Regions from separate parts of the Homo sapiens genome. Here region 1 is linked to region 2. The links come from fine-mapping of genetic effects on gene expression. A gene starts in region 2. The other region holds a variant in brackets. All regions are shown on one strand. Distances are from middle to middle. Region 1 overlaps PRDX6-AS1 (PRDX6 antisense RNA 1). Region 2 holds the start of PRDX6-AS1 (PRDX6 antisense RNA 1).

What was found.
Region 1: its variant is fine-mapped to the expression of PRDX6-AS1 in prefrontal cortex (BrainSeq, PIP 0.95).

Annotation. Positions count from the first base shown.
Region 1 is chr1:173,416,871-173,420,870 of GRCh38, forward strand. PRDX6-AS1 (PRDX6 antisense RNA 1) reads right to left here. Exons shown (of 2, transcript NR_125960.1): 2 at 919-1,752. The region is part of intron 2 of LOC100506023 (a long non-coding RNA gene); the gene reads right to left. It also overlaps a transcript of TNFSF4 not described here. Among named protein-coding and RNA genes, the nearest start is that of PRDX6-AS1, 42 kb to the right of the region's middle. RefSeq lists enhancers at 1,312-1,651, 3,410-3,509. The variant T/TA (reference allele first, on the strand shown) is at 1,754.
Region 2 is chr1:173,459,537-173,464,068 of GRCh38, forward strand. It overlaps PRDX6-AS1 (PRDX6 antisense RNA 1), which reads right to left and starts at 1,826. Exons shown (of 2, transcript NR_125960.1): 1 at 842-1,826. LOC100506023 (a long non-coding RNA gene) reads right to left here. Exons shown (of 3, transcript NR_037845.1): 2 at 2,788-2,918. RefSeq lists an enhancer at 556-1,055.

The sequences.
Region 1 (4,000 bases), 43 kb before region 2:
ACAGTTGTGAGCCATTGTGGCCGGCCACAAATGTTATTTTTAAAGCACACACACATTCCTGGTGGAAGGTAAGTATCCTCAGCACCCATTTCCTGAAACGTCTTTTAATCATCACAATATGGAGATTGTATTATTATCTCTATTTTAAAGACAGGGCAGTATTTTCCTGGGGCAGTATTTCCCAAATTGTGTCCCACGGAATGCTAATAACAGTACTAAGAGGTAAGTGGTGCTCACTTTTGAAAATGCTCCTATAGCCAAATATTTTTGAGAAATAATGCAGAGGAATGGTGCATTTGTGAGCATAGACCCAGGAGTCAGAGACACCTCGGTTTGGGGCCGAGCCCCACTGATTATCAGCTTTGCGGGTGCAGCAATAATAATCCTAGCTTCCTTATCTGGGATGTGGGAATAATGAAATACCCGCTTCATAAGGTTCGTGTGAGGGTTGATGTTATGAGGTAACAAATGTAAAGCTCTTAGCACATAGCTGGTGCAAAAAAAGTCTTCAATAAACAAGAACTCTTATTGGCATTGTAGCAGGTTAAATATTGTTAACATCTTACAGCTAGACCTATAATTTTTTTAGGGAGAGATCAATTTTGTTTAGGAAAACATCTTAATAAACCACGTGGAAGCGTGGCCAGCAATGAGACTCTGAAGTTACAAGCCATCAATAACCAAGACCAAAACCTAGAAAACCAAGTTTGAAAAAGCCAGAGTCCCATAGAGGGTGAGTACTGATTTCTCTCATTGCCTGACATTATAACAAAGAGGTTCAGGGCACAAAGATGAGATCTCACCTCCGTCTTCACCTCCCTCTTTTTAGTACTACTCCATCCTTTACAGATTCACCTACACACACTCACACATGCACACACACCACTCCCTTTTCAGGAAGAAAGCTACAGGCTCCAGTTAATTAGAAATTCTACTATTTCAGCTTTATTACTTCCTCTTTACTCTCTGAACTTTAAAGGAACACATTTCTGTAAAGTTTAAATTATTTCAATGAGGTGTATTACCTTTTTAACTGGGGGTGGGAGGGAAGCACTTTTTTTTTCTTTTTTTTTTTTTTAATGTTGAAGACTCCACTCAGTCATTTGAGCTCCAGGAAGCCTTCCCTGGCCACCCATAAGTTAAGAGAAGAGCCCCTCTTCTGAGCTCCCAGAGCACCCACTTCATACCTATGCTATAGAACACACCGCCAAGGACGGAAATTATCCAAAGGTTTGTGTCCATTGATTGCCATGCCAGGCATCCAGCTCTGCTGAAGCACGCAGGGGCCCTGACTTCCTCATTAGGTATTCTCAACACCTCCACCAGCAGCTGGTAGGCAGCAGAGCTATTGTTACTGAGCTGCCCACGGCACCAATGGATCTATGAATGAACCTGAACGTCTTCCCTGGAGAAAAGCACTTGCTTGTCAAGGGAGGAACAGGGGTCTGAAATGCTAACCCCTGCCCTATAGTATGGGTGTGCATACGGTGCACCTTCCAAAGCCCAGAGTGGCATTCTTATTACATCCCGGAAACCCCCTGGTCAGGGGCTTTTGGGGTGACATCCAATATGTAAATACCAGGGTCGGGTCCTGCTGAGTGGCATAACAGTGCCATATGTGAAAGTTCCACCAGCAGCAGAGGGCTCTTTCATTAGTCATTTCACTGCACACAGCTGTAAGGAATCTGGCGAAGCTTGATTTGGCTGGGAGGAGTGCATTTTCCACTTGTAGGCGTCTTGAAAACTTTCATAC[T/TA]AAAAAAAAAAAAAAAATTAACAACAAGAAAATCATCATAGTCCAAAATGAGAAGCCAGAAATTGAAGGTGGAGAGCCAGGGTAGCAAACATAATGGAGGGACTCCAAGACCGGGCTTCCACCAGGACCCTACACTGACTCACAGATGTGTAATGGTCATGGCGAGCCTTACATGTAAACAGAGATCCCAACATGTCCCAGAGGTAGTGGCTGTGGAAGCCTGGGCAGATGCCAGGCAGTATTCTAAGGTTAAGCATTGCTATGGTTTGAATGTGACCCCCAAATTTCATGTGCTGGAAACTTAATTCCCAAATTCACATATCGATGACATTTGGAGGTAGGGCCTTTGAGAGGTAATTAAGATTAAATAAGGCCATGAGTGTGTGGCCCCCACGGTGGGGCTGGTGGCTTTATAAGAAGAGTTAGAGTAACCTGGCCGGGTGCTGTGGCTCACGCCTGTAATCCCAGCACTTTGGGAGGCCAAGGCGGGCAGATCACGAGGTCAGGAGATCGAGACCATCCTGGCTAACACGGTGAAACCCCATCTCTACCAAAAAAATACAAAAAAATTAGCCGGGTGTGGTGGCGGGCACCTGTAGTCCCAGCTACTTGGGAGGCTGAGGCAGGAGAGTGGCCTGAACCTGGGAGGCGGAGCTTGCAGGGAGCTGAGATCACACCACTGCACTCCAGCCTGGGTGACAGAGCAAGACTCCGTCTCAGAAAAAAAAAAAAAAAAGAAGAGTTAGAGTAACCCAAGCGGACAAGCCTGCTCTTGCCCACTTGCCATGTGATGCCCTCTGCCACGTGAGGATGCAGCAAGAAGGCCTTCACCAAATGCCAGCACCATGTGCTTGGACTTCCCAGCCTCCAGAACTATAAGCAATAAATTTCTTGTCTTTATAAATGATCCAGTCTGTAGAATTCTGTTACAGCAATGGACTAAGACAGGCATGATTTGGGGTACAGAGAAGGAAAACTGAGAGGTCACAGAAGAGAGAGGAGGGTGGAAGCTGGGGGAGAGGCACTGATGGAACCAGCTTCCACCCTTCCCTGCAGGGCTTGGAAAGACCCATGAGGACACAAGGGAGAATAAAAGGAAGCAGCCCTGATTGCCATGGCTGGGTCAGGGTCAGGAGGCTAGGACTGCTTTATGTCCCTGCTATAATGGACTTATGGGTTTTTTAAGATTTTTTAAAATAGATTAACTATAGCTCCTAGAGCTGACTCTACTGATAACTTTACCCTGGACTCCCTCCCTGATTTTGACCTTAGTTTGTGTGGCGGGGGGGGGGATGAGAGGCTGCGGTCCAAATGGAATGCAGTTTGCCTGTCCTCTATCAGCATCAATGCATCACCTTTCCCCCGATTTTTACCTCATGATATATTTATGCATTTAACGCATGTTTATTGAGTGAGCTGCATGCAGCAAAATGCACGTAAAAAGCAATTTTTTTTCTTTTTTCTTTGTCCTTTCAACTCCTCTCTCTGGATTTGCCTTGTCCCTGCACTTGAGATGAAAGCTAACCAATACCACGGATTTTCTAGCCACTCTGAGCCATTAAATAAAGAGGCTCTTTAAAACAAACAAACAAAAAAAAAAGTAAAAAACAGTCTACTCAACCTGAAGCTTCTCCCCTCTCAGACTCCTTCACTTCAGGTTTGGAAACTCGGTACCAAGGAGGAAGGCATGGACTTCACCATTTTCTCTCCTCCACCTCTCGTAGCCAGCTGCTAATTCTCAAGCCTCAAGCTGTGAGAGATTGAGAACTGAGGGAAAGGACACAGTACTTGACGGCTCTTACTGTCATGACGCGGCCTTGGTGCCCTCTGGGTTTAGCATGTTTTCCAACGCTTTCCTTTCCAGCCTCACTTAGGCACATTGCAGTTAAAGAATATGGCCACCAGGTGGCAGTAAAGGCCTTTTTTTTTCCTGGCCAGTAGACCCTACCCTCCGGTTTTATATGGCTACATAATTTCTTTAAGATGATGTCAAATATGCTTTCCCTACATTTCAAAAGAAAAGAAAGTAAACACTTAAAACCACAAACTGGTCAACTTAGCAAAAACTAAATATAATTTAAAGATGATGCCCTAGGGAATAAACGTGTAAAGAAAACCTCCCAAGTTGTTAATTATGTAATTACATAACTAATTTACTAAGTCTTTCTCTTCCTCAAATTATTACTGTGTAAGTCTAAATCTTATTCCCAGATCTTGATCATAATTTACCTTCCCTTAATTTAGAGT
Region 2 (4,532 bases):
AATTCTGATACTAAAGTATACTAAATACTAAACAATAGTAAAAATAAAATACATATTGGGTTATTCTTAAAATCCAAAGTCAAATATTAGCAAGTCTAATTAAGAATGCTTTTGACAGCAAGTAACAGAAACCCTGACTCCAATTATCTTTAAAAATGAGGGTATTTCTGAACTCAACAGAAATCTAGAAGTAGGATAAGTTTTAGGATGGGTTGTGGTTTAATTACGTTATTAAGAACCCAGGGGAGGGGGGCCAAGTTGGCCAATTAGAAGCAGCAGCTGTCTGTGGCACTCAGGGAGAGGAAGAAAGGAGCAAGTGAATATAGCACCTTCAACTGAAATATCCAGGCACTCACACTGGGACTGATCACAGAAACAACTCGACCCATGGAGAAGAGAGAAAAGCAAGGTGGGGCAATAGCCCACCTGGGAGCAACATGAAGCCAAGAGAACTCCCACCCCCAGCCAAGGGAAGCAGTGAGTGAGTGTGCAACCCCAGGAAACCACGCTTCTCCCACGGATCTTTGCAACCCACAGATCAGGAGATCAGTGCACCCACACCACCTTGTGCACCCACATCACCAGGGTCTTGGGTCCCACACACAGAGGTGTGTTGAGTCTCAGCAGAGCAGCTGCTCAGGCATGCATAGAGATCCAGGAACTTTACATATTCCGGCCCCAGGATCCCCAACAGAGGTGTCTGTAACTCAGGCAAGGTGGGAGGTCTGTACATACCCCTAGGAAGGGGGCTGAATCCAGGGAGCCAAGCAGCATCAATCTGTGGGTCCCACTTCCACAACACCTCACAAAATAAGACCTACTGGCTTGGAATATAGCCTACCTGTGATGGGACAGAGTCCCCAGTGGGAGGGGTGGGCTGCCATCTCTACTGTTTGGTTGACTCAGCCATTTCAGTCTATGGGCTTCGGAGAATCCATATGGTTCAAACAAGGAAGGGTCTTCCCAGAACACTACAGCGGCATTGCCTGAACGTGGCCAGGTTGCTTCTTTAAGTGGGGCCCCAATCCATTCCTCTTCACTGGGAGGGACCTCCCAACCGGGGCCTCCAGCCATCTCTGCCTGTATTCCACAAACGGATCCTGATCTCTTTCTGGAATAGCATGCCCGAGGGGAGGCGAGGAGGGAAGGAGGAGGGGAGGGGAGGAGGGGAGGAAAGGAGGGCCACCAAGCTGGCTGTTTGAATGACTCAGCCATTCCAACCAGTGGGCTTTAGAGAGTCCAAGCCAACAAGGGCAGAAGCAGTTTCCCAGCACAACAAGGCTGTTCTATTGAGGCATGGCCAGATGGCTTCTTTAAGTGGGACCCTGATCCACTTTTCCTTGACGGGTAGATCATGCCAGCTGGGGTATCCAGCCACCCCCGCCCATGTTCTGTGGCCAACAGACTTCTAATTTTTCCCTGGGACAGAGTGCCCAGAGGGGAAGGCGGGCCACCAACTTGGCTGTTGGGCACCTCAGCCAGTTCAGCCTGTGGGCCTCGGAGAGCCCAAACCAACAAGGGGCTGATGGGATCCCCAACACAGCACAACTGCTCTATCAAAAACAGCCCAACTGCTTCTTTAAGTGGATCCCTGATCCCGTTCCTCCTGACTAGGTGAGATGTCCCAACTGGGGTCTCCAGCCACCCCCTACATACTGTGTGCTCATGCTGGCAACAGGACAGTACCGCCCTGGGATGGAGCTTCCAGGGGAAGGGGCAGGCTGCCATCTTTGCTGTTTCATAGCATTCACTGCTGATACCTCCAAGTACAGGAAAAACTGAGGCAACCAGGGTGTAGAGTGGACCCCCAGCTAACTGCAGCATCTGTAAGGAAGAGTAAACAGACTGCTAAAAGAAAAAGATGAAAAAACAAAACAATCCATGAAAGCGCCATCCAAAGGTCAGCAACCTCAAAGATCGAAGATAGATAAGCCCACAAAAATGAGAAAGAATCAACGCAAAAATCTTGAAAATTCAAAAACCCAGAGAGCCCCTTTTCCTCCAAATGATCACAACACCTCTCCAGCAAGGGCTCAGAACTAGGCTGAGCCCAAGATGACAGAAGTAAGCTTCAGAATGTGGACAAAAGCCAATTTTGCTGAGCTAAAGGTGTATGTCCTAACCAAAGGCAAAGAAGCTAAGAATCATGATAAAACAATGCAGGAGCTGACAGCCAAAACAGCCAGTATAGAAAGGACCATAACCGACCTCACAGAGCTGAAAAACATACTACAAGTACTCGCAATGTAATCCCAAGTATTAATAGCAGAATAGACCAAGCAGAGCAAAGAATCCCAGAGCTTGCAGACTATCTCTCTGAAATAGGACAGGTAGACAGGAATAGAGAAAAAAGAATGAAAATGAATGAATAAAACCTCTGAGAAATATGGGTTTATGTAAAAGGACCAAACCTACAACTGATTGGGGTACCTGAAAGAGACAGGAAGAATAGAACCAAGTTGGAAAACATACTTCAGGATATCATCCAGGAGAATGACCCCAACCTAGCAAGATAGGCCAACATTCAAATTCAGGAACAAGAGAACCCCAGTAAGATAACTATTCAAGAAAATCATCCCTAAGATATGTATCAGCAGATTCTCCAAAGTCAAAATGAAAGAAAAAATGTTGGCTGGGCACAGTGGCTCATGCCTGTAATCCCAGCACTTTGGGAGGCCAAGGTGGGTGGATTACTTGAGGTCAGGAGTTCAAGACCAGCCTGGCCAACGTGGTGAAACCCTGTCTCTACTAAAAATACAAAAATTAGCCAGGTGTGGTGGCACATACCTTTAGTCCCAGCTACTCAGGCTACTCAAGAGGCTGAGGCAGGAGATTTGCTTGAACCCAGGAGACAGAGGTTGCATTGAGCTGAGATCGTGCCACTGCACTCCAGCCTGGGTGACACAGTGAAACTCCATCTGAAAAAAAAAAGAAAAAAGAAAAAAATGTTAAGGACAGCCAGAAAGAAAGACCAGGTCACCTACAAAGGGAAGGCCATCGGACAAGCATTGGGCCTCTGAGTGGAAACCCTACAAGCCAGAAAAGATTGGGGGCCAGTATTCAATATTCCTAAAGAAAAGAATTTCCAACCCAGAATTTCATATGCAAACTAAGTTTCATAAGCAAAGGAGAAATAAGATCCTTTTCAGACAAACAAATGCTGAGGAAATTCATCACTACCAGACCTGCCTTACAAGAGCTCCTGAAGGAAGCACTAAATATAGAAAGGAAAAACCATTACCACTACAAAAACACACTGACATACCAATGATACAATGAAGTATCCACATAAACCTGCAAAATAACCAGCCAGCATCATGATGACAGGATCAAATCCACACATAAAAATGCTAATCTTAAATGAAAATGTGCTAAATGCCTCCCAAAAAAAGATACAGAATAACAAGCTAGATAAAGAGCCAAGACCCATTAGTATGCTATCTTCAAGAGACGCATCTCACGTGCAAAGACACACATAGGCTCAAAATAAAGGGATAGAGGAAAATTTACCAAGCAAATGGAAAACAGAAAAAAACAGGTGCAATCCTAGTTTATAACAAAACAGACTTTAAATCAACAAAAATCAAAAAAGATAAAGAAGGCCACTACATAACAGTAAAGGGTTCATTTCAACAAGAAGAGCTAACTAACCTAAGTATATATACACCCAATACAGGAGCACCCAGAAAAAGAAAGTACTTAGAGACCTTCAAAGAGACTTAGACTCACACACAATAATGGTGGGAGACTTTATCACCCCACTGACAATATTAGGCAGATCATTGAGACAGAAAATTATCAAAGACATTCAAGACCTCAACTCAGCTCTGGATCAAGTGGGCCTGATAGCTATATACAGAACTCTCCACTCCAAAACAACAGAATATACATTCTTCTCATCGCCACAGCACTTACTCTAAAATTGATCACATAATTGGAAGTAAAACACTCCTTGGCAAATGCAAAAGAACTGAAAACATACCAAAGAGTCTCTCAGACCAAGGTGTAATCAAATTAGAACACAAGATTAAGAAATTCACTCAAAACCATATAACTACATGGAAAATGAACAATCTGCTCCCGAATGACTTTTGGTTAAATAATGAAATTAAGGCAGAAATCAAGAAGTTCTTTGAAACCAATGAGAACAAAACTACAATGTCCAGAATCTCCAGAATGCAGCTAAAGCACTGTTAAGAGGGAAATTTATAGCACTAAATGTCCACATCAAAAAGCTAAAAAGATCTCAAGTTAACAACCTAACATCACAACTAAACAAACTAGAGAAAAAAGAGCAAACCAACCCAAAGTTAGCAGGAGACAAAAAATAACCAAAATCAGAGTAGAACTGAAGAAGACAGAGACATGAAAAACCCTTCAAAGAATCAATGAATCCAGGAGCTGGTTTTTTGAAAAAAATTAATAAAATAGATAGACTGCTAGCTAGACTAATAAAGAATAAAAGAGAAAAGATTCAAATAAACACAATCAGAAGTGATAAGGGTGATATCACCACTGACCCCACAGAAATA